Linked DNA regions of Homo sapiens. The protein of the gene in region 1 purifies or fractionates together with the protein of each later gene. This does not show direct contact. Each region holds a gene or a part of one and is shown on either strand. Other genes may lie near its edges.

The links.
Region 2: the proteins of B4GAT1 (region 1) and ADCY6 purify together in Homo sapiens (co-immunoprecipitation; 3 studies listed by BioGRID and IntAct, with this or other methods). This does not show direct contact.
Region 3: the proteins of B4GAT1 (region 1) and SCAP purify together in Homo sapiens (co-immunoprecipitation; 3 studies listed by BioGRID and IntAct, with this or other methods). This does not show direct contact.
Region 4: the proteins of B4GAT1 (region 1) and PTPN2 purify together in Homo sapiens (co-immunoprecipitation; 3 studies listed by BioGRID and IntAct, with this or other methods). This does not show direct contact.

What each region holds. Positions count from the first base shown.
Region 1 is NC_000011.10:66,344,853-66,351,687, forward strand, and holds B4GAT1 (beta-1,4-glucuronyltransferase 1), read right to left. Parts: upstream 2,778-6,835; 5' UTR 2,694-2,777; coding exon 1,638-2,693; intron 1,389-1,637; coding exon 1,197-1,388; 3' UTR 522-1,196; downstream 1-521. UniProt on the Homo sapiens protein: Beta-1,4-glucuronyltransferase involved in O-mannosylation of alpha-dystroglycan (DAG1).
Region 2 is NC_000012.12:48,765,682-48,772,104, forward strand, and holds the end of ADCY6 (adenylate cyclase type 6), read right to left. Parts: intron 6,357-6,423; exon of another isoform or gene 6,294-6,356; intron 6,293-6,293; coding exon 6,029-6,292; intron 5,779-6,028; exon of another isoform or gene 5,290-5,778; coding exon 5,085-5,289; exon of another isoform or gene 4,946-5,084; intron 4,552-4,945; exon of another isoform or gene 4,407-4,551; intron 3,381-4,406; coding exon 3,256-3,380; intron 3,036-3,255; coding exon 2,910-3,035; 3' UTR 513-2,909; downstream 1-512. UniProt on the Homo sapiens protein: Catalyzes the formation of the signaling molecule cAMP downstream of G protein-coupled receptors. Functions in signaling cascades downstream of beta-adrenergic receptors in the heart and in vascular smooth muscle cells.
Region 3 is NC_000003.12:47,423,932-47,430,958, reverse strand, and holds part of SCAP (sterol regulatory element-binding protein cleavage-activating protein), read left to right. Parts: intron 1-2,288; coding exon 2,289-2,446; intron 2,447-3,291; coding exon 3,292-3,512; intron 3,513-3,696; coding exon 3,697-3,802; intron 3,803-4,789; coding exon 4,790-4,962; intron 4,963-5,347; coding exon 5,348-5,474; intron 5,475-6,913; coding exon 6,914-7,026; intron 7,027-7,027. UniProt on the Homo sapiens protein: Escort protein required for cholesterol as well as lipid homeostasis.
Region 4 is NC_000018.10:12,811,213-12,818,239, reverse strand, and holds part of PTPN2 (tyrosine-protein phosphatase non-receptor type 2), read left to right. Parts: intron 1-874; coding exon 875-1,084; intron 1,085-3,884; coding exon 3,885-4,037; intron 4,038-7,027. UniProt on the Homo sapiens protein: Non-receptor type tyrosine-specific phosphatase that dephosphorylates receptor protein tyrosine kinases including INSR, EGFR, CSF1R, PDGFR.

The DNA.
Region 1 (6,835 bases):
CAGCCCAGCACGCGTCAGGCCGGTTAAATCTCTGCTTCGGCCTCGGAGGAGGAGGTTGTGCCGGCCCTGCTCGACTAACCGGAGAGGGCGAACCAAAAGCCATGCATGACGATACGCACCGCGGGGACTGGAGCCTCTGGCCTCACGACGGAGATTCCCTGAGAGCTGCCCGTGGTTGCCGGTACCGGCTGCTGCCGCCGGACTCCCGTAGGCGCTGCGCGGCTCCCTTTTCTTCGGGAGGCAGAGCCTATCGGTGCTTCCGTGTGCGTCATCAGGAGGCGACCGTCGGGGATGCTCACAGTTGGACAGTTTGGTCCCGAGGCATGCTGGGATACCGCGGGCCGGTCTCCATAGTAACTGGCCGACATTCGCGCAGGCCTTCGGCCTGCAGGGAAGGCCCTGATGGTTCAGTGCTTTGCAGACGGTGCCCTTCGTCCGCGGCCATCTCCCCACGGCGTGCAAGGGGAGAAGCCGGCCCCGATCCCCCCACCCCCAGCTCAGGAGAGTAACGGAGCCAGCTGTGGGTGTGAACACGCATTTATTTACACATTGTCATCGGTAGGCACATACCCAGCCCAGCCCGTTGAAGGGACAGATCTCAGGCTGTCACCCATGGAACCTGCAGACCCTTCCCTCCTCCAGAACCCTTGAAGGCGAAGCCCTGAGAGAACCAGGAATTTTAGGCTTCTGTTCAAGAGCTAAGAACTAAATTTTATGCCTTCATCTGATTTCTTTCCAAAAAGTCCATTTCATTAAGTATTCAGACTTCTTAGCTCCATCCCATTCATACTTTTTGCTCTCCTACTACCCACCCAAGATTGTTAATAATAACAATAATAATAACAACAATAATACTGCGATAATATTAATACTTCACATTTGTACGAAGCTTACAGAATGTTTTCACATATAGCATCTCATCTGAGCCTCCCAACAGTTCCGTGAGGTAGGTATTCTCACCTCCCTTTTTACAGACAGGGTAACCGAGGCTCAGAGAGGTAACGGGATTTACTCAAGGCCACACAGCTAGTTAGTGGTAAAGCTAGGAATCGATCCCAGCACCCCATATCCAAGTCCAGTGTTTCAACACCACAGCTACCTCTGTAAAGTGGAGCGACATTTCTTACCCCAGTCAGGCCTAAATGGTGGCCTGAGGAGCCAAGAGGCTGACTTCTCAGATTAGGGGAGGGAAGGGCTCAGCAGCGTCGGGGAGAGTTGGGGTACTTGGCCTTCAACTCCTGTTTGAACTGGCGATATAGGATCTTATTGTGCTGATTTTCAGCCTCCTTTTGGGGATGGAACTTCAACGCTTCTTTGAAGCCCTTATGAACCAAGAAACCTTCGTTCAGGACCTCAAAATCAAACCCCGCCACATGCAGCTCGCAGGCCTGCAGGAGGAAAGACAGGTTAGCAAAGTTTGATGACATTGACAGGCCTGAGACTGACTTCCCTAAAGCCACAGTCCAGCGTCCTCACCCCTCTGGAAGTATCCTGGATCTTCCACACCATCCACCCACCTCCTGAACTATGATCCCTCCTGCTTCATTGCCTCCTTTCCATCCAGGGCCACTCCTCATAACTCCCTGATCCCACCACCCCTCCTGCCCCATTACCCCTGCCCTCTCCCTTATGAGCACCTGGCTGATTCGGTTGAAGCCGTACTGCCGAAAGCGCTCGTCGAAGGTGGGCACCTTGCCTCCTGCCACGTAGAATGGCTCCCAGGGGTCCTGCCAAGGTACCACGTAGGCGGGCCGCAGCAAGCTCTCTTCCGGCAGGTTGACCCAGCGGGAATAGTTGGTGGGTGCCTGGCAGGGGGTGCACAACCCATAATAGAAGGGCCGCACCTCGCCAACCTGGTAGAGCTGCACCAGCTCGTTTTTGTTCATGGGCATGCGGCGGGCTCTTCGGATTTCGAAGGCAGGCACCACCAGCGCGGTGCCTCCCCACTGGTTGCTCTGATCCAGCATTTCCCGCAGGCCTCTCCACAGCCCCTCGCTGGGCACCATGTCCACATCGATCACCAGGGCATAGTTGGCCCCCTCACGAGCCAGATTCCTCAGCAGGTTATTGGGGTAGGAGACATTGGTGCCCAGCGCATAATTAATCCCGGGCTGGGCCACCCTGGCTAGCTTGTCAAAGACCTCCTGGCAGGACCGCAGCAGGGCAAACTCCCCCGGCTCCCGGGGGTCGGGCACGGCTGCCTCGTAACGCGAGGGGCACACGAGGTGCATGGCGACCCTGGCGCGCATGTCGGGGCAGTGGCTGCTCAGCGCGTAGGCCAGCACCGTGGCCAGCTGCGCCTCCTCCTTGGTGGCCGCGAACACCGACACGGACAGCGGGCCCTCCCAGCGCTCCAGCAGACCCGACAGGTGCAGCAGGTTGTCCACGCTGGCGTGCGTGGCCAGGATCACATCGTTGGGGTCCATGGTGGTCTTCAGCAGGCCCCTGTAGACGCGGTAATCGCCGCTAGCGTCCAGGACGCCTCCAGAGGCCAGCGCGGTGCGGAGCTGCGCCTTGACCTGGTCCACGGACCGTGGGGACGGGGGAAAGAACTCAAAATATTGGTCTTGCTCCTCCTGCCCGTGCAGTCCGGACAGCAGCGACAGGTAGAGCAGCTGCAGCATCGCCACCAGCATGAGCGCGGCCAGCAGCAGCTGGTAGAAGGCGCACCGGATGGCGTAGGACATCTGCATGGCTCTCGGGGCTCGGGGCGCGCAGCAACGACCACCCGGCCACAGACTACGCCAGCGGCCGCAAGCCCGGATTTACCGCAGCCTGCCGAGCGCAGCCGAGGCGAGCCGAGGCCAGCCGAGCCCCGAGCGCCGCCCCGCCCGCCGCCCGCCGCCCGCCGCCCGCCGCCCGCCACCGCCCCCAGCCCCCGGCGCGCCGGCTCGCCCCCTACGAGGGAGGAGGAGCCACGGCCCCGCCGCTCGGCCGCGCGCCGTGCAGACGCCCGCCCGCCCGGGCCCCGCCGGCTTCCCGGGACGCACTCCTCTCCCTCCCCGCCGGCGCGCGCACCCTGGACCGGGCGCGCCCTGAACGCGCGGCGCGCTCGGCCGGACTCGGAGGGAAACCGCGGCAGAGCTCGGCTGCAGCGTGGTAAAGGATGGCGCGGGCTCAGCAGAAAGGAAATCAAAACGCTCCCTTCCTTCCGCGGCTTCTTCTTTCCCTGTGTCCGAAGAGGTCTGCGTTGCGACTTACGTGGTAGTGCTTGGAAGGTGCGGAGTAGATGAGAGATAAGTGAATGTGGACAAACCTGTCACGTAGGACGAGGTGGCCGAGTGGTTAAGGCGATGGACTGCTAATCCATTGTGCTTTGCACGCGTGGGTTCGAATCCCATCCTCGTCGGCCCTGTTTTATAGAGGTTGGGGGGGAAGCATCTACATTTTCACATCCTGCCTATTTGGAGCAGCAAGCTGGAGGTGCGAGGGGTGAGGCATCTAAATTTTCACATCCTGCCTGTGGAGCAGCAAGCTGAAGAAAACTGAACTGGGGGTGAGAGTGGAATTCGATCCCAAGTCTCTCTGGTCTTTATCCACCACGCATCTCCTGCCTGCTCCTACTTCAGGTGTCTGTAGCTCTGGGCAGAGGCCAAAGGTGTTTTCTTTCCTTCTAGAAAGAGGGCCCAGGGGTTGGTGGCACGGAAAAGACTAGAACCGGGATTCTGGCCAGTGTGAAGTTGGGGGCCAACGTATGATCTGCAGGAATCAGGGAAGCCCCCCATTGGAGGCATCGCCCTCCCCGTCCGAAGTAGTGGTACTTGTCCTACTCTCCAGCACTTCTCCTAGGGCGGAGACCTTGTGTCCACATGCCCTGCTCCCCAACACACACAATCTCTTTTTTTTTTTTTTTTTTTTTTTTTGAGGCGGATTCTCGCTCTGTCGCCCAGGCTGGAGCGCAGTGGCGCGATCTCGGCTCACTGCAACCTCTGCCTTCCAGGTTCAAGCGATTCTCCTGCCTCAGCCCCGAGTAGCTGGGACTACTAGCGCATGCAGCACGCCCGGCTAATTTTTTGTATTTTTAGCAGAGACGGAGTTTCACCGTGTTAGCCAGGATGGTCTCGGATCTCCTGACCTCCTGATCCGCCCACCTCGGCCTCCCAAAGTGCTGGGATTACAGGTGTGAGCCACCGCGCCCGGCCGCACACAAACTCTTAAGCAGAAGGCTTTGAACATTCCAATATCAGGCCACTATACTCTTAATAAGTATTTGTGGATTAATTCATCTGTGGACTCTTTAGAACAGGAGAGGCCGTGGGAAGGGCAGACACTGCCACTGCTAAATCAATTACCGTATATTACTCAACTTTTTAGGCTGAGCCAGGGAGGCCCCTATAGGGCAGAGTGCTCTGAATCTTGGGATGTCAGGACAGACTGGGCAGGGCTTCAAATAAGGATAAAGTGTTTGTCCCACTATTCCACAGGCAGTAGGGTGCCAAGGTTGTTGAGTTGAAGAGTGATCAGAAAACCTTTATTTTGCAGCCCAGAGCAAAAACACACACTGAGTACCTGGTCTCTGCCAGGAACTGTGTTAGGCACGAGGGATGGGCCTTGGAGGAGACACAGGTATTGTCCTTGAGAGTTTCCACTGGTGACCTTGGCTGTAAAGAGGAGAAAAGTAAGTGCAGATCCTTTCAGCACAGGCCTTATAGACTGGAGGCTCAGAAGTCAGACATGCTGCCATGTGGATTTTCTTTGACCTCCTCAGTGTTTTATTTTTTATTTATTATTATTATTATTATTTGAGACAGAATTTTGTTCTTCTTGCTCAGGCTGGAGTGCAATGACGCGATCTTGGCTCACTGCAACCTTGCCTCCTAGGTTCAAGTGATTCTCCTGCCTCAGCCTCCTGAGTAGCTGGGATTACAGGAGTGCACCACCATGCCTGGCTAATTTTTTGTATTATTTTTTAGTAGAGATGGGGTTTCATCATGTTAGCCAGGCTGGTCTCGAACTCCTAACTTCAGGTGATCCACTCACCTTGGCCTCCCAAAGTGTTGGGATTACAGGTGTGAGCCACTGCGCCCAGCCCTATTATTATTATTATTATTTTGAGACAGAGTTTCGCTCTTGTTGCCCAGGCTGGAGTGCAATGGCTCAATCTCGGCTCACTGCAACCTCTGCCTCCTGGGTTCAAGTGATTCTCCTGCCTCAGCCTCCGGAGTAGCTGGGATTACAGGCATGTACCACCATGCCCAGCTAATTTTGTATTTTTAGTAGACTAGGGTTTCTCCATGTTAGTCAGGCTGGTCTCGAACTCCCGACCTCAGGTGATCTGCCCACCTCGGCCTCCCAAAGTGCTGGGATTACAGGAGTGAGCTACCAAGCTCAGCCAGTGTTTGTATTTTCAGTGGACAAGTTTTTTACTTCCTGGGTTAATTTTTTCCTAGGTATTTTATTCTTTTGTATCCTATTGTAAATGGAGTTGTTTTCTTAATTTCCTTTTCACGTTGTTCATTGTTAGTGTATAGAAATATAACTGAATTTTTGTTGTTGTTGTTGTTGTTTTGAGATGGAGTTTCGCCCTTTCACCCAGGCTCGAGTGAAGTGGCGCGATCTTGGCTGACTGCAACGTCTGCCCCCCGGGTTCAAGCAATTCTCCAGCTTCAACCTCCCGAGTAGCTGGGACTACAGGTGCATGCCACCACACCCGGCTAATTTTTGTATTTTTAGTAGAGACGGGGTTTTGCCATGTTGGCTAGGCTGGTTTCAAACTCCTGACCTCAGGTGATCCACCTGCCTCAGCGTCACAAAGTGGTAGGATTACAGGCATGAGCCACTGTGCCCAACCAGAATTTTGTGTGTTAACTTTTTTTTTTTTTTTTTGAGGCAGAGTCTCACTCTGTCTCCCAGGCTGGAGTGCAGTGGAGTGATCTCACCTCATTGCAACCTCCGCCTCTTAGGTTCAAGTGATTCTCCTGCCTCAGCCTCTCTAGTAGCTGGGACTACAGGCGTGCGCCACCACACCCAGTTAATTTTTATATTTTTAGTAGAGACAGGGTTTCACCATGTTGGCCAAGCTGGTCTTGAACTCTTGACCTCGAGTGATCCACCCACCTCAGCCTCCCAAAGTGCTTGGATTACGGGCACGAGCCACTGAGCCAGGCTATTGTGTGTTAATCTTGAATTCTGCAACTTTGCTGACTTTATTAGCTCTAAAAGTTTGTGTATGTGTGTACGTGTCTGTGTGTGTGTGTGTGTGTGTCTCTGTGTGTATGCATGTATTCCTTAGGATTTTCTATATATGTATATATTATGTCATCTGTGACTATGAATAGTTTTACCTCTTTTTCAGTTTGGTTAACTTTTGTTTCTTTTTCTTGCCATTTTTTTTCCCACCCCAGTGCAGAAGTTCATTTCTTGCCAAATTGCTCTAGCTAGAACTTCTAGTACAATGTTGAGGAGATGAAACGGTGAAACCACGTATCCTTCTCTTGTTCCTGATCTTTGGGGGAAGGCTTTAGGTCTTTCGCCATTAAGTATGATGTTATTTGTGGATTTTTCATAAATGCCCTTTATCAGGTGAAGGAAGTTTCCACCTATTCCTTGTTTATTCAGCATTTTTATCTTGAACGAGTGTTGGACTTTGTCACATGCTTTTTATCTTGAACGAGTGTTGGACTTTGTCACATGCTTTTTATCTTGAAAGCGTGTTGGATTTTGTCACTTGCTTTTTGTTCATAAATTGAGGTGATCACTTGGTGTTTCCTCTTCATTCTATTAATGTGGTGTATTACATTGATTGATTTTCTTTTTCTTTTTTTGAGACGTTCTTGCTCTGTTTCCCAGGCTGGAGTGCAGTGGAGCGATCTTGGCTCACGGCAACCTCTGCGTC
Region 2 (6,423 bases), on another chromosome or scaffold:
TGAATTGTGGCAAGAGTGCAGAGGGGGAAAGAAGGAGGTTTCCCAGTTCCGATGGCTGACTAATGGGAGGAGGAGATGGAGAAAGCACAGTAAACAGACTGGACTAAAAGTTGCTTGTGTGCACGGGGGGAGCTGTGGGGTCAGGATGGGAGTGATTCCAGTGTCCAGATTGTTGTGAGAGCTGCTGTGTGGGAGATTCCTGAATAAGCCAGACCTTGGAGTGAGAGGTCTGTGAGGGGCCAAGGCACTGGAAAGAACCGCCGGCTTCATGCATGGCAGGGGTCACACACAAATCTGGGAAGGCACACACTGGAGCTCATGATGCTGAAAGGCCTTGAGTAGTCACACTCTGAAGATACTGCAGCTTCTCCTTAGCAGGGAGAAAGCCACAGGAAGTCCTCTGACCACAGACAAGAGGCCCACGGAGCCCTGGGGCAGGAGGTCGCCTCCTACACCAGGCTCTGTCACTTCTGACCCACCCAGGGCCCAGAACAGCTACAGAGAACAGAGAATTTTACAAAGAGTTTGATTTTATTGATATTTAAATATATTAAATATTTCACTGAAATACATGGTTCACCATCCTCCCCCACCCCCACAGTGGTTACATTATAAAACCAAAGCCCACGGCCTCCCACCTCCTGACTCCTCTACCAACTGGGTGAGGAAAGGGACAATGGTAGCCCAGGGGAAGGGCATGGCTGGCACTGTGGTACGGGGATCCAGGGTGTGGACAGGCCCTCCCACCTGGCAAGAAGCAGAGACAAGCCACCCAAGGCTGAGGTCTTCCCACTCTGATCTACTTATACCCTCACCCCTACCCCATGGCACCAAGTAGTCTCTTCCTATCCCTTCCTATCCAGGGATATGGCTGGGGACAGGGGAGTAGATTTTCTGTCTGGAAAACAAGTCTTTTCCCCTCCTTCTGCCATGACTAATGAAGTACCTGATGGCCCATTTGGTTGATGCATGAAGATGCCCAAGGGAGGCATTACCCAGAAACCAGGCCTCCACAGGGAGCTGGTGTCAGAAGGGGCATGAGGAGGGGCAAGTGCACTGCCTGCCCCTTCCACTCCCAAACCTAGCAACTCTGGAAACCCTTCTCCTCTGCCTCTCTAGTCATTTCCAAGACAAAGTGATCTTCAAGCAAAATTCAGGCTAGTGCCTTTGGCTTAAATAGGTACAGACAGAGAAACTGAGGCACCAACAAATTCAGGCCAGAGTCAAGGAGGTTGCAGGGAAAGGGGTAAAAGGAAGGCAAAGACAGGAAGGGAATCTAGAGTTCAACCTCCTAACCCTTCTGCCAGCCCTCAAGGCTTCACAAGGGACTGGGGAGCTAGAAACATGCTAGACTCAGGCTGAAGGCTGGGGAAAGCCAAGTTTAAGGTTCCTCTTCCCCACCCCGTAGTACCAGTATCCAGGTCCTCAGAGGGATTCCATGCTACCCCAGCCCCAAAGCATACCATGTCCCAGGACACTATCTGGGGAAGCCAGGAAATTCCTCAGCCTCTGTCCATCAAACCCCAGACAGTTCAAGTGCTGGCATGGAGCACTGGGGCTTAAGCAAGCGCTTGGGTCCCTGCCACAGACAGGGAGAGTCATGCTGCACACATGGCCCCCGAACGGCACTTAGGGATTTGGCACAAAAAGGACTCCTCTCCCTCCTTTTGCTACCACACCCCATCCCACTCCTGTGCAACCTGGGCATCTCTCTACATCCCCTGAAGTAGGAAACCCTGCTTTATTCCCAGAAGACAGAGGCCCACAGGAGAGAGGCAACCTGGGGTGGAGAGCTGAGGAGCAGGAGCACAAGGACTCACATAGACCTGGAAAACAGATATGCACACAAAGACCAACATGCACACACAGTTACACAAACACACGGGCCCTCCCCAACACCAGAGACTTGGGAGGGCAGGTTTGGGATCAGGGTCACCTTTCTCCATGCCCTGACCCTTTTCTATTTGGCAACAGAAGAGGAAGAGATGCTCCATGCCCCCTTGTCAGCAGACAGCAAGAGAGCACTGGGGCAGAGTGACCTGATCTGGACCCCGACGGGGTCCTCAGATCAGAGTCTGGCACTGCCCCAGCCCTGGCCGGCCTGCTCTTTGGCACCTGCAGGTGAACTTCCAGCTCCTGACCTGACATCCCCACACACAGGCTTGCTCTCTGAGCATTTTTCACAGTACCAGTGAGGCCAGACACCCCGTTCCCTGGAGCGTGCAGGAACTGGGGCTAAATCTAAGCTGTCAGAGGTCCCTTTGTTCCCCTTTGGGGACAGATCATGGGACTAAGATTTGGCACATGGAAACATTCTCCTGAAATATGGCCAAAGCTGGCTCCCCAGAGCTTCTCCCTCCTCTGCTCTGTGCATAGGAGGGACACCTGGCTGGGGTGGGGAAGTGCCCAGGACCAGTGCTGGGGATGCAGGTATTGCAAAGGCAAGCATGGAATAGGCACTCCTCATGCCTGTCTTTGTACAAAATATTGTACAAAATATTCCCAGGAAAAAAGAGGGAAAAGAAGGGCTCAGCCCTGAACCTGCTGCCCAGACAGACAGGGAAGGGTAGGCATGGCAAGCTGCCATTTTAATCCCTCAGGCAAGAGGCCTCCCTCTGCTTCTGCTACTGACCCCTCCCCTGCTCCCAAAGGCTGGAAGATTGGAGAGGGAACAGCCCTACCCCAAGTAAGAAAGAAAGTCACTTGCATAATCCTCTCGGTAGGTAGCCCCTTGTTTTCCAGCTTGAGGGCAGACGAGCATGATCCAAGCACAGCCTGCTGGGATGTTCCCTTTTGTGGTTAGCAGGGTCTGGAGGCTCAGTGCCCCCTGCCACAGCTCCACCCAGTGAGCACAGAGTCCACTCAATGCCCACCTTGGTCCCTTCAGCTGAATTTGTGGCTGGGCCCTGTTAACTGCTGGGGCCCCCATTGAGGAAGTAGGTGGTCATCTCCCCCTTGCCCTTCACCTTGACCACCCCTCGACACTCCAGCTGGTAGCCCTTGGCAGCTAGAACCTGGTACAGGTCCGTGGTCACCTGGGGGAGTGGGAGGGGAGCCCGCTTAGCCTGGAATCCTTCCTGCTGCATTTGCAGGGGCCCAGGGGTTCTCTAGTCAGGCTAGCTCCCTTCCCCCAGTCCCTGCCCCACCATACACAGAACACTAGCCACCCTACCCCTGTCCTAGCAGACTGCAGAGACACCTGTGGAAGCCCTCCGGGCCCATGTTCCTCCCAGCCCCTGCTCATATCCCCCTCACCTGGATTCGGTCGGGGACCCCCGTGCTGTCCATACGACTAGAGACATTCACTGTGTTCCCCCAGATGTCATACTGTGGCTTCCGAGCCCCGATGACACCTGCCACGACTGGGCCCATGTTCAGCCCTGAGGTGGAGAGAACAGCAAGAGACTAGTGGATGCTCCAGGGTAAACCCAGGGAGTCATCCCACCTCCTGGCACTGGTAGAAGGACCCAGAGAAAAAAATGGAAAAAGGACAAGTCTCCTGGTTGTAAAGAACAATCTAGTTCAAGACGAGCCTGGCCAACATGGTGAAACCCTATCTTTACAAAAAAAAAATACAAAAATTAGCTGGACAATGGTGGTACATGCCTGTAGTCCCAGCTACTTAGGAGGCTGAGGTGGGAGAATAGATTGATTGAGCCTGGGATTTGAGGCTACAGTGAGCTGTGATTGTGCCACGGCACTCTAGCCTGGTACAGAGCAAATCCCCATCTCAAAAAAAAAAAAAAAAAAAAACCCAAAAAACAAATAAAAATACCCAAAGACCTGAGCACCTCAGTTTAGGAGCTCCCCTGAGTCAAGACAGCCATGCTATAACAGTAATCTCCTGAATGCCTATTCCATGTCAACCACTCTAGTAAGCATTTTACCTGGCTTCATCCTTTCTTTTCTTTTTTTTTTTTTTTGAGATGGAGTCTTGCTCTGTTGCCCAGGATGGAGTGCAGTGGCACAATCTCAGCTCACTGCAACCTCTGCCTCCCAGGTTCAAGAGATTCTCCTGCCTCAGCCTCCCGAGTAGCTGGGATTACAGACATGTACCACCACACCCAACTAATTTTTGTTTTTTTTTTTTTTTTGGGGGGGACAGAGTCTCGCTCTGTCACCCAGGCTGGAGTGCAGTGGCACCATCTCGGCTCACTGCAAGCTCCGCCTCCCGGGTTCACACCATTCTCCTGCCTCAGCCTCCCGAGTAGCTGGGACTATAGGCGCCCACCACCACACCCGGCTAATTTTTTGTATTTTTAGTAGAGACGGAATTTCACCGTGTTAGTCAGGATGGTCTTGATCTCTTGACCTCGTGATCCGCCTGCCTCGGACTCCCAAAGTGCTGGGATTACAGGCGTGAGCCACTGCGCCCGGCCTAATTTTTTTTTTTTTTTTTTTTTCAGTAGAAAAGGGGTTTCACTATGTTGGTCAGGCTGGTCTTGAACTCCCGACCTCATGATCTGCCCACCTCGGCTTCCCAAAGTGCTGGGATTACAGGCATGATCCACCGCGCCCGGCATGGCTTCATCCTTTCAACACCTCTAAAAGGTAGGTATTATTATCCCCATTTTATAGATAAGGTAACTGAAGCTTAGAGAAGTTAGAAGACTTCTCAAATAAGCCAGTAAATGGAGCAGCCAGAATTCAAACCAAATAGTCCATCTCTAGTAGCCATGCTATTAACCACTCCCATCCACCAGTTCATTTGAGAGGAAATACCTCTTATTGGACTGGTCACAGATAAGGACAGAAGTATTCAAGTTTATATAAACCTGATTTTTAATCCCAGCTCTGCCACTTACTAGTTGTTTGACCTTGGGCAAGTTATTTAATCTCTCTGAGAGTCAGTCTCTATCCAATGAAAGGCGATAATAGTATCAGGATTAAAATATGCTCAAAAATTTATAGGACAGTGCCTAATGATCTCTGTTCTTAATATCAGACTTGATATAGGAGGTCAGAGGGAAGAAAACCCCACAGGAGCCCTGATGGGAAATCTGTGATCCCATCCCCAGCCTATAATCCCAGCTTCACCTGGAAAAAGTCCTGGGAAAACCCGCCAAGCAACAAAGCCCTCTTACCAATCTTCATCTGGAAATTGTTGAAGGAGTGCTCATTGATGTGCTTCATCTGCTCCATGAGCCGCATGGCGTAGTCAGCCAGGGCAGTGATGTGGGAGCGGCCCACCTGATCGTAGGTGCTGGCGTTCAGCCCTGAGGCAGCCATGTAGGTGCTACCAATCGTCTTGATCTTTTCCAGCTGCCGGAACCGCTCCTCGCTGATAATCTGAACAACACAAGGAGACCTGGCTGTCAAGGCAAAGACCCCAGACCCAGCCCTGCCCCAACACTCATTTCTTGCCACGCCTTGGCTGCCTTCCCCACTTCCCTGTCTCAAGAGCCCCCTTCCAGCTGCTGCTATCAGTGTAAGACTGAGGAGCTGGGAAAACAGGCAGCCTAGGACTCCAGGCAGGACTTGGGCATACAGCTTCAGAAGGTCCCTCCAGTAGCTCACTCACAGAACACAGACCCACAAGTGCAATATTAAGCAATTTCTCCAATCCTTACCTTTTGGGATACTGAGTCCCAGAGTGAGCAAGTGACTTCCCTCCAGAACAGTGAACAGCCCATTCCTGATCTGGATGTTCAGGACACTACCTCACATTTTGCTTCAATTTTCTCTATTCAGAGGACCATCTTGCTTGGTTGGTCTCATGAGGTTCTGTCCACAGACTATTGCCTTCTTCTTCAGTGACATCCACCTGGTACCTATCCTATCCCCCTACAGATCAAGTCCTCCCCTGCTCCCCAACAGTGATGACCCTGCCCCACTAGGGCTGACCCCCTTGCTGCCTCTGACACCTTCATGGGTTCTTGCCTCTGCCTCCACTGTGCATACCCTTACCCCTGATGACTCTGGGTCCCATCAAATCTCTCTCTCTCTTCCCAGTTCCACTCACCCATTCCAATCCCTGGTCTCCAAGTACCCCCCACTCTCTGCCACCACCAGCCAACTGGAAAAGTACCTCATCAAAGTCAGCGATGATCTCGTTGAGCAGCCGCAGGCACTCGACACCCTCATTGTTTGCCTCCAGCTCCACATAGAACTCAGAGAAGTTGGCAATGGAGGCAAACATAACAGCCACACACTCACACGACTGATAGTAGAGTTCATCATTGCGGCGCTCCCGGGCCAGGAAGTGGGCCGCCACGTCCTTGGGCAGAATGTTATGCAGCAGCCTCCGGTTGTATGCCTGTAGCTCCTCCATCTCCTCCTTCTCCCCTGTTGCCTGTGGACACCACACCCATCACCCATTGCCCGACATTCACAAGGGGTAGGTGTGGTGGCCAAGGCTTGGAAGTGCGGATAAGAGGGAATCACATAGAGAAAGAAAGGCCCAGACAGATGAGGCCTAAAGAA
Region 3 (7,027 bases), on another chromosome or scaffold:
AACTTGCTGTGCTTGGTCAGCATCTTGGCCCTTGCCTATGCTGTAACCTGGAGTACTGCATTGGTGAGTGGCTCCATGGCCTCCCTTTCATCCACACGCATGCCCCTTGGAGTTCCCGACTGCAGCCCAGGCGTGGAGACAGCCCCTCATCCCTCAGCTGGGCTGGGCCCTGCCCCCTTCAGTCCACACCTCGCAGTACACCGCTGTCTAGGGCCATGTTTCCTTGTCTCCAGTTGTCACCAACTCCCGGGGAGTCTTTACAGAGCACTGCTTTCATCAGGTTGCCCCTTCACCTCAGAGACACTGGGCTTTGCTTTGTCAACTGATTAAAATCCTGACAGCTCAGTCAGGCTTCAGTCTAAGCCTGCTTGTCATCTTCCTCGTAATTTCTGTTATCCCCTGACAGGTTTCCTTGGTGCAGATGTCCAGGCCTTCTGTGCTCTCAGCATCCCTTGCAACTCACATTCCCTCCTGCTCCTCTCCTACCTGTTCTTTTCTAACCTTATGGCTCTACTCAGCTTCTCCTGGGCCATAACTCTGCTGTGGCTGACCCAGCATGTTTTGGGGTGCTCCGCGACATGCCTGTTACTGAGGGTTGCATATGTGAACACTCTTGTCATTTACATCCCTGTTAAGCTCTTGAAAGGTAGATGGCAGATTCTAGTGAGAAAAGTATGTGATATTTAGTGAGGAGACCTTGGTTTGAGTCCTTACACCACCCTGCCTGGAGTGTGAAGCTCTAGGCAGGCACAATGCCTGAGCCTCTCCTTGCTTCTCATCAGGCTGTTGTGAGGGTCAGATGAAGTGAAATGCCTGATTGTTCATTGTTAATATTTCTGCTAATCTTTCAGACACTGTTTGTATGCGTGTGTGGTGTGTGCATACATCTTGATGCTGCAGGGTGAATGTCGTTATTCCTGTTTCACAATGAGGAAATTGAAATCCAGAGATGTCAAAAGTGTTTTCAAGGCCATATGTTTGGAAAGCTGTGATTTAAAATTGGGTCCTTTGATCTTCAAAACCCGCTACTCTGCTGCAAGTGACAAAACCTGAATCAGTAAGACAGGTTACATGCTTTGGGGAGTGTAGAGTCTATAGTGCGGTCAGCAGACATGTTCCATAAAGGGCTAGATAGTAAACATTTAGGCTTTGCGGGCCAGACGGCCTCTGTTGCAGCCATTTGACCCTGCTGTTGTAGAGTGAAAGCAGCCATAGACAATAGTAATGGTAGGGGTGTGGCTGTGCTTCAGTAAAAATTGGAAGTGGAAAAACAGGCACTAACCAGCCTGGGCAACATAGTGAGACCCCATCTCTACAGAAAATAAAGAAGTTAGCCAGGTGTGGCACTTCGGGAGGCCAAAATGGGAGGATCACTTGAGCCCAGGAGTTCGAGACCAGCCTGGCAACATAGTGATACCCTGTCCCTACAAAACATTTTTGAAAATTAGGCGTGGTGGTGGTGCACACACCTCTAGTCTCAGCTACTTGGTGGGTGGGGGTGCTGAGGTGGGAGGATCTCTTGAGCCTGGGAGATTGAGGTTTCAGTGAGCCATGATTGGGCAATAGAGCAAGACCCTGTCTCAAAAAGAAAAACAGGCATGGGCCCTGATTTGGCCTACAGGCCATCGTTTGCCTACACCTGGTCCCACAGTGCTTTGCCCATAGTAGATGTGTTATTGAGCAAAAGAGGCTCGCTGCCCAATGTGCTAGAAGCCAATACTGTGACACCAGGATTTGGGGAAAAGAAAAGCTTTATATTGAAGGTTGACTCCCTAGGAGACCGGAGTCCAGCTCAAATCTGTCTCCCTGTGCTGGCTTTAAGGCAGTAATTTTATTAGGAAAGGTTTAGAGGGTGGATACTAGGATTAGCAGATGATTGATGGAAGGAAGGGTGATTTCTGGGAAGTCTTTGAGCATGCCCAGTTATCTCTTGATGCCACCTCACAGGTCCCATGTGCAAATTCCGGGGGGAGTTAGTATGAAACATGGCAGTGGAAATTCAGGCTGTGACATCGGCAAGCTCATTCTGCACAACTCCAGTCGGCCATCTTGGTTCCAGCTTATTTCAGCCAGTTCTTTTATCTCATAAGCGGAGGGAGTTTCTGGGTTTCAGCAAATTGTTTCTTTTCTTATCTGCCATCCTGCAAACTCAAGAACTTGTATTAGTCATTGGTTTCTTTAACTCTGTGGGGCACGGTTTCCAATGCCCATTAAATCCCTTGAATTGGACCGTCTTTCTTCTTCCTGTGCTCAGCTGCCCTTTCTGCCCTCCCTCATTTCTTCTGCAGTATGTGGGTGCCCCGGTGGCTTATGTCCAGCAGATATTTGTGAAGTCCTCAGTGTTTCCCTGGCACAAGAACCTCCTGGCAGTAGATGTATTTCGTTCACCTTTGTCCCGGGCATTCCAACTGGTGGAGGAGATCCGGAACCACGTGCTGAGAGACAGGTACCCCTCTCAGGGACCCTGGCCTCCCTGAATCCCATTCTGTACTGAAGGGAGAGTTACAGTCCTCAGTGTAACTGCAGTGAGCCAGTCAGCTCTGCAGAGATAGAACAAGCAAGAAGGATGGAGGGTGAGCTAGCCTTGAATTTCTCAGCATCCTTGTGGGTCTACGGTGGCTGCATTCCGCTTGGACCTATGCAGATGGCACACACATAGCCTTGAGTCTCATCCTTACATCTCAGATGGAGTCAGTGTCCACTGTGCTAACTCATGACCCACATGGCTTCCTGCCTGTGGGTTATGGTGTGAATGTAATGGTGGTGTCTCTGCCGACGAGAAGCAAGCTCTACCTGGGGGTACCTTCTGAAGCCCCAGCCCAAGTCGTGCTCCCCTGCCTATCAGTGGGTCCCTGGGTTATGCTGGCTTGGCATACAATGTGTGTAATTGGCAAGCTGCATCACTGCCAGGTTTTAGTTAGCTAGTGGCGTTGACAGATATTTTGGTGAACTAAATGAAGCCCCTAATTTACCCCGGTCCCTGCTCATCCACTGAACTGGCCAGGGTGTTTTAGTGGGTGGGGTTGTGCATGCTCTTATAGTACACTTGCCCGTCCTCAGAGCTGATGGGCTTTTGGGCTTCAGATGCACTTTGAAAGTCAGACAGCCACATGTTTAGGTTATTGGCCACCTGGAAGTACTTCCCCCTGCTGCCCTAGTGGTCAGGCTCTTTGGCGATACCAGAGAGCAAATATGGGGCATTGAAGAACAGACAGAGGATGTCCCCTAAGTACAGCAGGTCTGCCCTGTGGTGGCAGACACAGCAGGTGCCTTGTCCTGTCTCCTGTGCAGCTCTGGGATCAGGAGCTTGGAGGAGTTGTGTCTGCAAGTGACCGACCTGCTGCCAGGCCTTAGGAAGCTCAGGAACCTACTCCCTGAGCATGGATGCCTGCTGCTGTCCCCTGGGAACTTCTGGCAGAATGACTGGGAACGCTTCCATGCTGATCCTGACATCATTGGGACCATCCACCAGCACGAGCCTAAAACCCTGCAGACTTCAGCCACACTCAAAGGTAGCCCCAGTACAAGTTCCCTTCAGACCTGTAAAGGTGCCCATTGGTCACCGTCTTTTTGATGTGTGCTTAGGCAGATCAGGGTTTACCCTTTGTTTCCCAGGGTGGGGGTGAGAAAGGGGTCCTTGGTGGCTCTGCAGTAGCTGTCATTTCTGTGTCAGTACCTGCTGGTTTCTGCTTGCAGACTTGTTATTTGGTGTTCCTGGGAAGTACAGCGGGGTGAGCCTCTACACCAGGAAGAGGATGGTCTCCTACACCATCACCCTGGTCTTCCAGCACTACCATGCCAAGTAAGATTGACAGTACCCTGGGCTCTTGACTGGTCTGCTGGGTGACATGAGGCTTTGAGTAGTCCCTCTTCTGGTTAGAGTGTTCTGAATGCCCCCTGGAAACTTGGGAGAGTTTCCAGGCCTCCTGTTGAATGTTTACATCCCTCAGACTAGATGATGCTGTCTACCACATTTTAATGGGGATGACCTGACAGCTGGTTAAGCATAGGGGACTAAGGTAGGGCTGGCGGTCTCAGTGTCCTGGTGCCTCCTCTGGTCTCTCTTGAGCCTAGGGCAGGCATCCCCAGCTGGTTACTACTGAGCACCCTATATGGCCTGTGTCCTTCCCAGTGGGGCACTGCAGGCAGCTCCCCAATTGGCAAGGGCACTCGAGGTGCTTCTGATCGGCTCTCCTAGGCCTCTGGCAATCAAGAGTGTTGGAGGCCGGGCGCGGTGGCTCACGCCTGTAATCCCAGACTTTGGGAGGCCGAGGCAGGCGGATCATGAGGTCAGGAGATCGAGACCATCCTGGCTAACACGGTGAAACCCCGTCTCTACTAAAAATACAAAAAATTAGCCGGGCGTGGTGGTGGGCACCTGTAGTCCCAGCTACTCGGGAGGCTGAGGCAGGAGGATGGTGTGAACCCAGGAGGCGGAGCTTGCAGTGAGCCCAGATGGCGCCACTGCACTCCAGCCTGGGCGACAGCGAGACTCTTGTCTCAAAAAATAAAAAATAAAATAAATAAATAAATAAAAAAGAGAGTGTTGGAGTAGGTCCGGAAAGGGAGACAAAGAAAGGAGCAGGGGGAGCTCCTGAGAAAACTTTGTCCCCTTTGTGATTTTCCCAGTGCCCCTGGAGACTATAGAGAAGCTCAGGCACCATAGAGAAGTTCCCTTTCAACACAGGGGCAGGAGGGAGGTCCTGATGGACCCTCTGTCCGGGGATTGTCTTTGTCCCCAGAACCAAGAGCAACACTTCCATTTACCCCCACCCTGCTCCTTGACCAGGTTCCTGGGCAGCCTGCGTGCCCGCCTGATGCTTCTGCACCCCAGCCCCAACTGCAGCCTTCGGGCGGAGAGCCTGGTCCACGTGCACTTCAAGGAGGAGATTGGTGTCGCTGAGCTCATCCCCCTTGTGACCACCTACATCATCTTGTTTGCCTACATCTACTTCTCCACGCGTAGGTTCATGGCAGGGAGGCTGAGGGCTTTCTCCAAGCTAAACGGGCATTTCCATGTCACCTGCTTCCCTGGCTCTGGAGGTGGCTTGGGGTAGAGAGATAGAACACACCTGGTGGTCATCAGAGCTAGGGCTTTGTCCCCCAGCAGGGTCTTAGGAGCTTGGGTGGGGCCGGGGCTCTTCCCACTTTCAGCCCCTTCCTGGGTTAGGGTTCCTAAAAGGTGTACTGTGTCCATGACACTGGGAAGTGCTTGTGCCTGTCCCTTTCCTTTGGTGAAACCAGGAGTTTTCCCTTCCTCGACTGTCAGGGCAACCTACTCCCGGGAGCCCCAGTGGGCCGGGGGCTGGGGGAGGGGCCGCCCTGATACGCCCTCTCTGCCCTCCAGGGAAGATCGACATGGTCAAGTCCAAGTGGGGGCTGGCCCTGGCTGCCGTGGTCACAGTGCTCAGCTCGCTGCTCATGTCTGTGGGACTCTGCACACTCTTCGGCCTGACGCCCACCCTCAATGGCGGGTAGGTCCCTAGCAGGCTCCACTGGGCCACAGGGTGGGCTCAGGCCAGAGAGCCTTGCACTTCTGGGTTCTTGGCCTTCCCTGGACTTTGCTGTGACCTCACGTCTTCACATTGTTGTTTTTGACATTTAAGAGGTACATTTTCTTCCTCTTCTTTGTCTGGCTTGTATTCATACTTGTGTTTGTATATAGCATATCTAGCTATAGTGAGTGTCCATATGTACAAAAGTGCATATTTGTGGGCTGGGTGTGTATATAAGGGGTGTGTGTTGGTATGTTTGTGTATACATGAGTATGTATTGCATGTGTGTAGTCGGATTTGTGTGTCTGTGTTTATGTATTCTATATACACACACCACACACACACTGCAGCTTGATGGCTTAAGCCACTGGAGGTGTGAGATAGAGAAGAGAACATTTTTTTTTTCATGATTAGAACATTTAAATGCCTAATGAAATAGGTCATTTTAGAGGAAGCTCTTTGGAAGATATGAGCACACTGTAATTTGTCGCCTTTTTCACTGATGTTTACTTTCCCCTTGCCACTCCTCTCTGAACCTTAGTCTGGAAGCCCTTCCCTCGGCTTGTCCTCAGGCTTTGATCTTGGCTCTGGCTAGGCCCGCCTGCCTGTCTATTAATGGTTATTAATGGATTATGGATTGGCCTGTCCACCACTTTGGCCCATCAGGCTGGTCGTATGAAAAGCGACGTCGTATTTTGTTTCTGGTAGTTTCGTTGCTCTTAGATACCTGCTCCCTTTCCTGAGCTTGACACTGTTAAACACCACCCTCCCCCATACCGTCTGCCATACCCTTCACAGGGCCCTCCCTTCCTTCGGCTCCAAAGCAGAGGTCCTGCAAGGTATAACTTGGCTGGCGTTCCTCGCACATAGACTTTCTTAGGGTTTGCTGCGGGGAGTGTGGGACAGTGGGCTCAGATAGCTGGTAGAGCTTTGTGTAGGAACAGTCGTTCTTCTCCACACACAGCTTCTCAACAAAGGTGAGTGGGCCTTCAGGATGGTTTCATCTCCTTGCATTTAGCTGTGATGGGTCCACCCAGAGTTACTGGTGTGGGTCTTGGCAGCAGTCATTGTCTTTAGCCAGCAGTCTTCTCCTGGGAAGGGCCAGCAGAAGTGTGGTCTAGCAGTGGCGCTGCACAGCTCTCCCTGAGGGGCCTCTTCCAGCCCTCCTGTGCTGGATGGCTAGAGACAGGATGGCTGCTGGCCCCTCTGCAAGGCTCTGGAGCCTGCCTGAAAGCTGAGTGCTGTGTAGATGCAGGTCTTGTTGGGTGAGGTGGACAAGGGAGGGTTTCTGCCCAGCACCTGTGGGAGTCACTCAGCAGCCCCCATGACAGGCTGGAAACCCCACAGCCTTCCTGAGGGCCCCAGTCTGTTGGGAACCACCACAACACTGTCCTCACCTTCTCCTTCTCTGTCCCCAGCGAGATTTTCCCCTACCTTGTGGTGGTTATTGGGTTAGAGAATGTGTTGGTGCTCACCAAGTCTGTGGTCTCAACCCCGGTAGACCTGGAGGTGAAGCTGCGGATCGCCCAAGG
Region 4 (7,027 bases), on another chromosome or scaffold:
GGGAGATTATATTTAAAAAATAAACTTTGAAATTCATAAAAAGGAAAATGTTAAAGAATGTAAAATTATACTGGTAGAAAAAAAATTTTTTTTTTTGAAGATGGAGTTTCACTCTTGTTGCCCAAGCTGGCGTGCAATGGCACGATCTCTGCTCACTGCAACCTCCACCTCCCAGGTTCAAGCAATTCTCCTGCCTCAGCCTCCCAAGTAGCTGAGATTACAGGCACGCGCCACCACGCCTGGCTAATTTTTTGTATTTTTAGTAGAAACGGGGTTTCACCATGTTGGCCAGGCTGGTCTCGAACTCCTGACCTCAAGTGATCTGCCCACCTCGGCCTCCCAAAGTGCTGGGATTACAGGCATGAGCCATTGCACCCGGCAGAAATTTTTTAAAATAGAAAAAAATAGCCCATTCATGATACATGAATTAAAGAAAATATTGGTAACATGTATGGTAACAGATTAGTAGCTGAGAACCCAAAGGCTGCCCCAGGTTGCTTCAAATCCTGGTTCTGCCATGTTCCAGCTGTGTGACCTTGGGCAAACTATCTTACCCTTTGTTTCAGTTTCCTCATCAGGAAAATGGGCTTTAATAGGATTATTGTGTGGATTGAGTTAATAAGTAAAGTGCTTAGAACAGGCCTCCAAAATAGTAAGTGTTGTATGCGTTAGCTATTATTAATACATCACAAATTTCCACTAAAGAAAATCTTCCCTAGTTTGTATATGGGATTGTCAGAAAACAAATGGAAAAATCATAGTATAAACAGCCTATATGGCTTTAAAGAATTATATAAAACACATGATCTTTCTGAAGTAGTTTTTTAAAAGAAAAAAGTTAGAACTAACTTCTCCCTTGATTTTCACTTTTTAGAGTGGTGAAACCAGAACAATATCTCACTTTCATTATACTACCTGGCCAGATTTTGGAGTCCCTGAATCACCAGCTTCATTTCTCAATTTCTTGTTTAAAGTGAGAGAATCTGGCTCCTTGAACCCTGACCATGGGCCTGCGGTGATCCACTGTAGTGCAGGCATTGGGCGCTCTGGCACCTTCTCTCTGGTAGACACTTGTCTTGTTTTGGTAAGTGCTTCTTACGATCTCATTTTAATCTCATTGATTTTTTTTTTTAAATTGCTTCCACTGGCAGTGAATAAACTCTGATGCTGTATCCCAGAACTGAGGTTTTTCAACTTAAACTTCTACTTTTGGAAAAACCTAAAAATCTCATTTCCACCGTTGCAACTGCCTCTTATTCATGACTGGTAGGAATGTATCCATGATGATTTTAGAGATCCCTAAGAAGGTGTTTTTCTTCCTGGTAGCTTTATATTACAGAAATAATAGGTCTCTCCCCCACATTTTTTCAAATATAAATTCATATGTAATATTGAATTCCTTCCTCCTCAGACAGATACTTTATCTCATTTTTTAAATTTAAAAACTAGGGATAATGATAGACATACTTCACAGGGTTCCTGTGAGAATTCAATGAATTAATACATTAAGGAGACTTAGAAGAGTCCCTGATGTTTTCTGAGCATTCCATAAATGTCAGTATTACTGTTACTCCCCTGAGGTTCCTGTCTGTGCCCCCAACGGCTAATTCTTTCTCCACCAGTCATTCCCAGTCCCAGCCTGTATACAGCCTAGATCTTTTCTTCTCTTTTTAGGACCTTTATTTTTTCGTTACTTGGGATACATGAAACTTCTGTTTGCCCTTATACTTCTCCTAACTTCTGTCTTTACTTCTTCCTCTTATTATAGGATCAAACCCAACAATAATACTGTCTGCTTTGATTTCCATGCCATCTACTCCTTCAGTAGTCCCTGCAGCTTAGTTTCTGCTTTCTGAGCGTGTTCTAAGATTATCAATAACCTAAGCAGTTTAGCTTGTCCTGGTATTCAGTCTGGTGGGGATTTTGTTTTTGTCTTTGTTTAGACAGAGTCTTGCCCTGTCACCCAGGCTGGAGTACAATGGTGCAATCACTGCTCACTGCAGCCTCAACCTCCTGGACTCAAGTGATCCTCCCACCTCAGCCTCCCAAGTAGCTGCCTGCACCACCACACCCAACTAGTTTTTGCTTTTTTATTTTTAGTAGAGACAAGGCCTCACTATCTTGGCCAGGCTAGTCTCAAATTCCTGGGCTCAAGTGATCTTCTTGCCTCAGCCTGCCAAAATGCTGGGATTACAGGTTTGAGCCACCACGCTTGACACAAGACTGGTGTTCTTAACCTTGACTTTAAGGCCCTGTATTAGTCTCTTCGATGTTTCTGTAAAACGTAGCTATGCTTCATTGCAGTTATGTCAGCATTCTTATGCTTTCCACCATGACTGCCAGCACAAAGTAGATTCCCAGGTGAATTAATATGATGATGCTTTTCATTGTAAACACACACACAAGGAGCTTGATCAATGGAGTGATACTCTTGGAAGGAGTGATACTCTTGGAAGAACATTTCAGACGTTGCATCTCTAATGAAAGCTAGGAATTGGGAACGGTTGAGTCTTAACTAAACATCTGTATTACTTTACCACTCTGCGTATATATAGTATACTTCAATCAAAATTAGATTGTTACATCAAAGTTTTAAAACTCTGGTGATTATTTTGTTAATGACACCTGTTCCCTGCCAACTATAACTTCAACAATTTTTTTTCTTTTATTTTTGGTGAGCCTGGGTGTGGGGATTCTAACACTAGGTCAGTAGTCCAGAGCAGTGCTGTAGCTCAGCAGTGTTATCGTGGATCTGGGCTTTTGCTGTCTTTTCCACCGTCTTTCTTCATTTTATTTTATTATTCTATTTATTTATTTATTTATTTATTTGAGACGAAGTTTCGCTCTGTTGCCAGGGTGGAGTGCAGTGGTGCAATCTCAGCTCACTGCAACCTCCGCCTCCCGGGTTCAAGAGATTCTCCTGCCTCAGCCTCCCGAGTAGCTGGGACTACAAGTGCGTACCACCATGCCCAGCTAATTTTTGTATTTTTAGTAGAGACGGGGTTTTACCATGTTGTCCAGGAAGGTCTCAATCTCTTGACCTCATAATCTGCCCACCTTGGCCTCCCAAAGTGCTGGGATTACAGGTGTGACCCACCACATTTTTATTTATTTATTTATTTATTTATTTATTTATTTATTTATTTATTTATTTTTGAGATGGAGTCTCGCTCTGTCGCCCAGGCTGGAGTATAGTGGCACTATCTGACCTCACTGCAACCGCCGCCTCCTGGGTTCAGGCGATTCTCCAGCCTCAGCCTCCAATGTAGCTGGGATTACAGACATGCGCCGCCACACCCAGCTAATTTTTGTATTTTTAGTAGAGATGGCATTTCGCGATGTTGGCCAGGCTGGTCTCTAGCTCCTGGCCTCAAGTGATTTGGCCTCCCAAAGTGTTGGGATTACAGGCATGAGCCATCATGCCTGGCCTCTTTTCCACCATTGTTAGATGGGTGCTGTATATCCAGACATCGTGTCTGTAGTGCAGACATGAAGGAGGCGGAAGGGGAATGAGCAGAAAGGTTGACTCCTGCCATGACTTTTAAAAAAAAAAATAGTCCTTATACTAGCCAGAACTGGTTATAAATCCTTCCTTTAACCAATGACTGGCCAGAAGGAATGAGATTACTATGATTGGTTTGGAATCAGTTGTGAATCAGCTAAAGAATCAAAGTCCTCCAACTACTTGAGGGGTTGAGATGTGGGGAGGGATGAGTAGGCTGGGATAGTTGTTGTGTACATAACAGTTATAGCTGGAGGGTTAAATTATCGTTGTTCTTTCAGAGGAGAAAATGCATAGCAAAAATCTTAGCAATGATCTTGCATTGATTCTGTTTCCTGGGTTCCAATAACAAGACTTGTCTCATTTTTTGCCTTTCTTGCAGATGGAAAAAGGAGATGATATTAACATAAAACAAGTGTTACTGAACATGAGAAAATACCGAATGGGTCTTATTCAGACCCCAGATCAACTGAGATTCTCATACATGGCTATAATAGAAGGAGCAAAATGTATAAAGGGAGATTCTAGTATACAGGTAAACTTCATACAGGTTTTAAATCATATCTATTTGTTAAATACACATAGCATCAAATAACTGCACTCCACTTGAGCCCTTGTCTTTGTTTCAAAGAGTGTATTTGAATTTTTGTGGTAAATCCAGCTGGCTGTCTTAAAATTGTAAAATTTTAGCTAGCTTCCTCATATATACTCAGCCTCAGGTTAAATCCTGTGTGTTACTTAAAAGCCCTTGTAGAAACAAGATTTCATTAAAGAAACTGAATTTTTCATTTTGGGGGTGGTTAATCTTTTAATTATTAAAGTAACTGGAAACTTGAGATACTTTTGCCTTCATTAAACACTGATACTTGGTTTATGTGATATTTGACTTTATAACAACAAGCAACTTGAATATTTATGGCAGATATAATGAAATTCCAGCAAAATGTTATATTCTTCTGGTTGGTGGCTTTATTCTCATTAAGCTATTTTTACTGCATATTTGTAGAACCTAAGTTCAAAGACTGATCAGAAACTTGTGTTATGTACTAAGTTAAAATGTAAAATAGAAACAACCACAGACTCCATTTTTTGTCTGGTTTAATCACATAGTATTGGACATAAGCAGATACTGTAAGTTGATGCATAATATAAGAAGATCGACTGTCTTTTCATTATGTTTCTCATGTGTGAACATATTTACTAGCACTTTCATTTCTCTGATTACTAGCCAATATAAGAATGTAAATTAGATCGGACCATTGGTGTCAGAATAAAGGTTTATTTAAAAAGATTTTTTCCAAATCTTTAAATAGCATTAAAATATTCTTAATGCACAGAAACATTAGGGCACTCAGAGCCAAAATACGCAATGTTTGGGAAACTCAGCCCATTAGAACATGTCCTGCTTCAGACGCCAGACTTTGGGAACACTGGATTTGCCAGGGTCACTTTGGCAGTGATCAGTGATTTAGGTGAAGTAAAAGTTATTTCAGATGTTTAAGATTAGGAAAATTTCCCTTTCTAATCACAGTGAGCTTTCACCAACTTAAATCTGGAGTTCAAAAAGAAAAGTAGTTCAATCAGATTTCCCCATGCCTTCACAGCCTGCATGCCGCCTTCCCTGCCTGCTTCCTGGCTGTGATGAGACGGGTAACTGGGAGGGAAATGTATTGTCCTTTGGATTGTGTCTTTCCTACCACTGCTTTTTTTTTTTTTAAGTTTTGTGTCTTTAGTTTTAGAATACATACTTTATCTGAGGGTGGATCTTTTTTTATCACAGAGATGAGTTTTTCTGGACACACTTTTTTGTGGAGTCTTTGACAGTGCAGTTTGTGGCTAGGAAGGATTTTTTTTCTGTTAATTTATCTGGTGTGATATTGTCCTCAGGCTCTCAATTCTAAGGCATTTTCTGCCCCTATTCCAGATAGGATATTGGAAACATCTTTATCCTTCAGGTACTCAGGATCAGAAAAGCATGCTGCCCATTCCAAGGGGTTAATTTCTGCAGAAATGGTCTTGGCATTCTGAGAATCTTTTTTAATTGGTGCATTTAGACCATCGGCATATGAAGTGATTACTGATAAAGTTGGATTAATAAATACATACCACACATGCTACTGGTTTTTTTTTCTTTTTTTGAGACGCAGTTTTGCTCTTGTTGCCCAGACTGGAGTGCAATGGCACAATCTCGGTTCACTGCAGCCTCTGCCTCCCAGGTTCAAGTGGTTCTCCCCACTCAGCCTTCCGAGTAGTTGGGATTACAGGTGCCTGCCACCACTCCTGGCTAATTTTGCATTTTTAGTAGAGATGGGGTTTCACAGTGTTGACCAGGCTGGTCTCGAACTCCTGACCTCAAGTGATCGCCCACCTCGGCGTCCCAAAGTGCTGAGATTACAGGCGTGAGCCACCGCACCCAGCCCAAAGTGATTGTATCTTAAGTCTGTAAATATGTGTAATTATAATCTTAAAGCATGTATTCATTTACAGAAAACTTCCAATGACTTTGACATTCCTATAGACATATAGGCTATTTGCAATTGCCTTTCAGCACAAGGTCAGGCATAAATACTTAAGCTGGTTGCTGGTATTACCACATATTTATTAGCATATTCCCAGTATTGATGATGACAGTTAACCCCCCAGAGTAAATATCTAGTTTGGCAATTCAGAACTAATGTTGTAAGATCTCTAGCTGGTAATTTGATATTACTAATAAAGTATTAAATGTAAATGATAAACTTTTAACAAATTACAGAGGATTTGAAGTTTAATTGCATTGCTTAAAGCTTTCTTCAGTGAGAGAAATGGGTAGAGCTAGGGTTCTAGGCATTGTGTGGGGGGCATGGCTCCTAGTGGCAGTGACTCATGGGTTGGTGCAACGTGAGCACAGAATTAGAAAGAAAGATGAAACAGTACCAGGCCTCAAAATGAGAGCTCCTTTGAGGTTATAGTTTAGTGAAATGTAATTCCTTGGCTTCACCAGTCAGCATTAATGACCTGAGGCAGGTGACTCAGGAGTGCTGGCTCCCTTGTGTGTCACAGGGAGGACAGAGACGAGTGAGTTTGCTGAACCTATATAGGCATGAGTGAGTTTGCTGAACATAGGCACGAGTGAGTCTGCTGATCATAGCCATGAATGAGTCTGTCGAACATAGCCATGAGTGAGTTTGCTGAACATAGCCATGGCAAAATGACATTGTTGGGTTTGTGGGGTTTTTTTAATTCACTAGCATTAAATATCTCTTTTATTTCTCTCTCTGCCGAGTGCTTTCCTTGTTGACGTATTCTGAATTTGTTGCATATTCTGGGAAGTGGTCCAGTGAGACTTGATTTTTGGTGTCATCTTATTTGTTGACATTGTTGAGTGTTGTCCAGCTATAAGGCCAAGTTACATAACTAGGTCTCAGTCAAGAGTGGAAACTTCAAAAATTGACCAGTGTAAATTCTGGAGACAATTTAACATTTTTGTGGGGTACTTTGTTGAACACACATCTTTATAAGGGGTCACAGCATAGTCAACCCAGA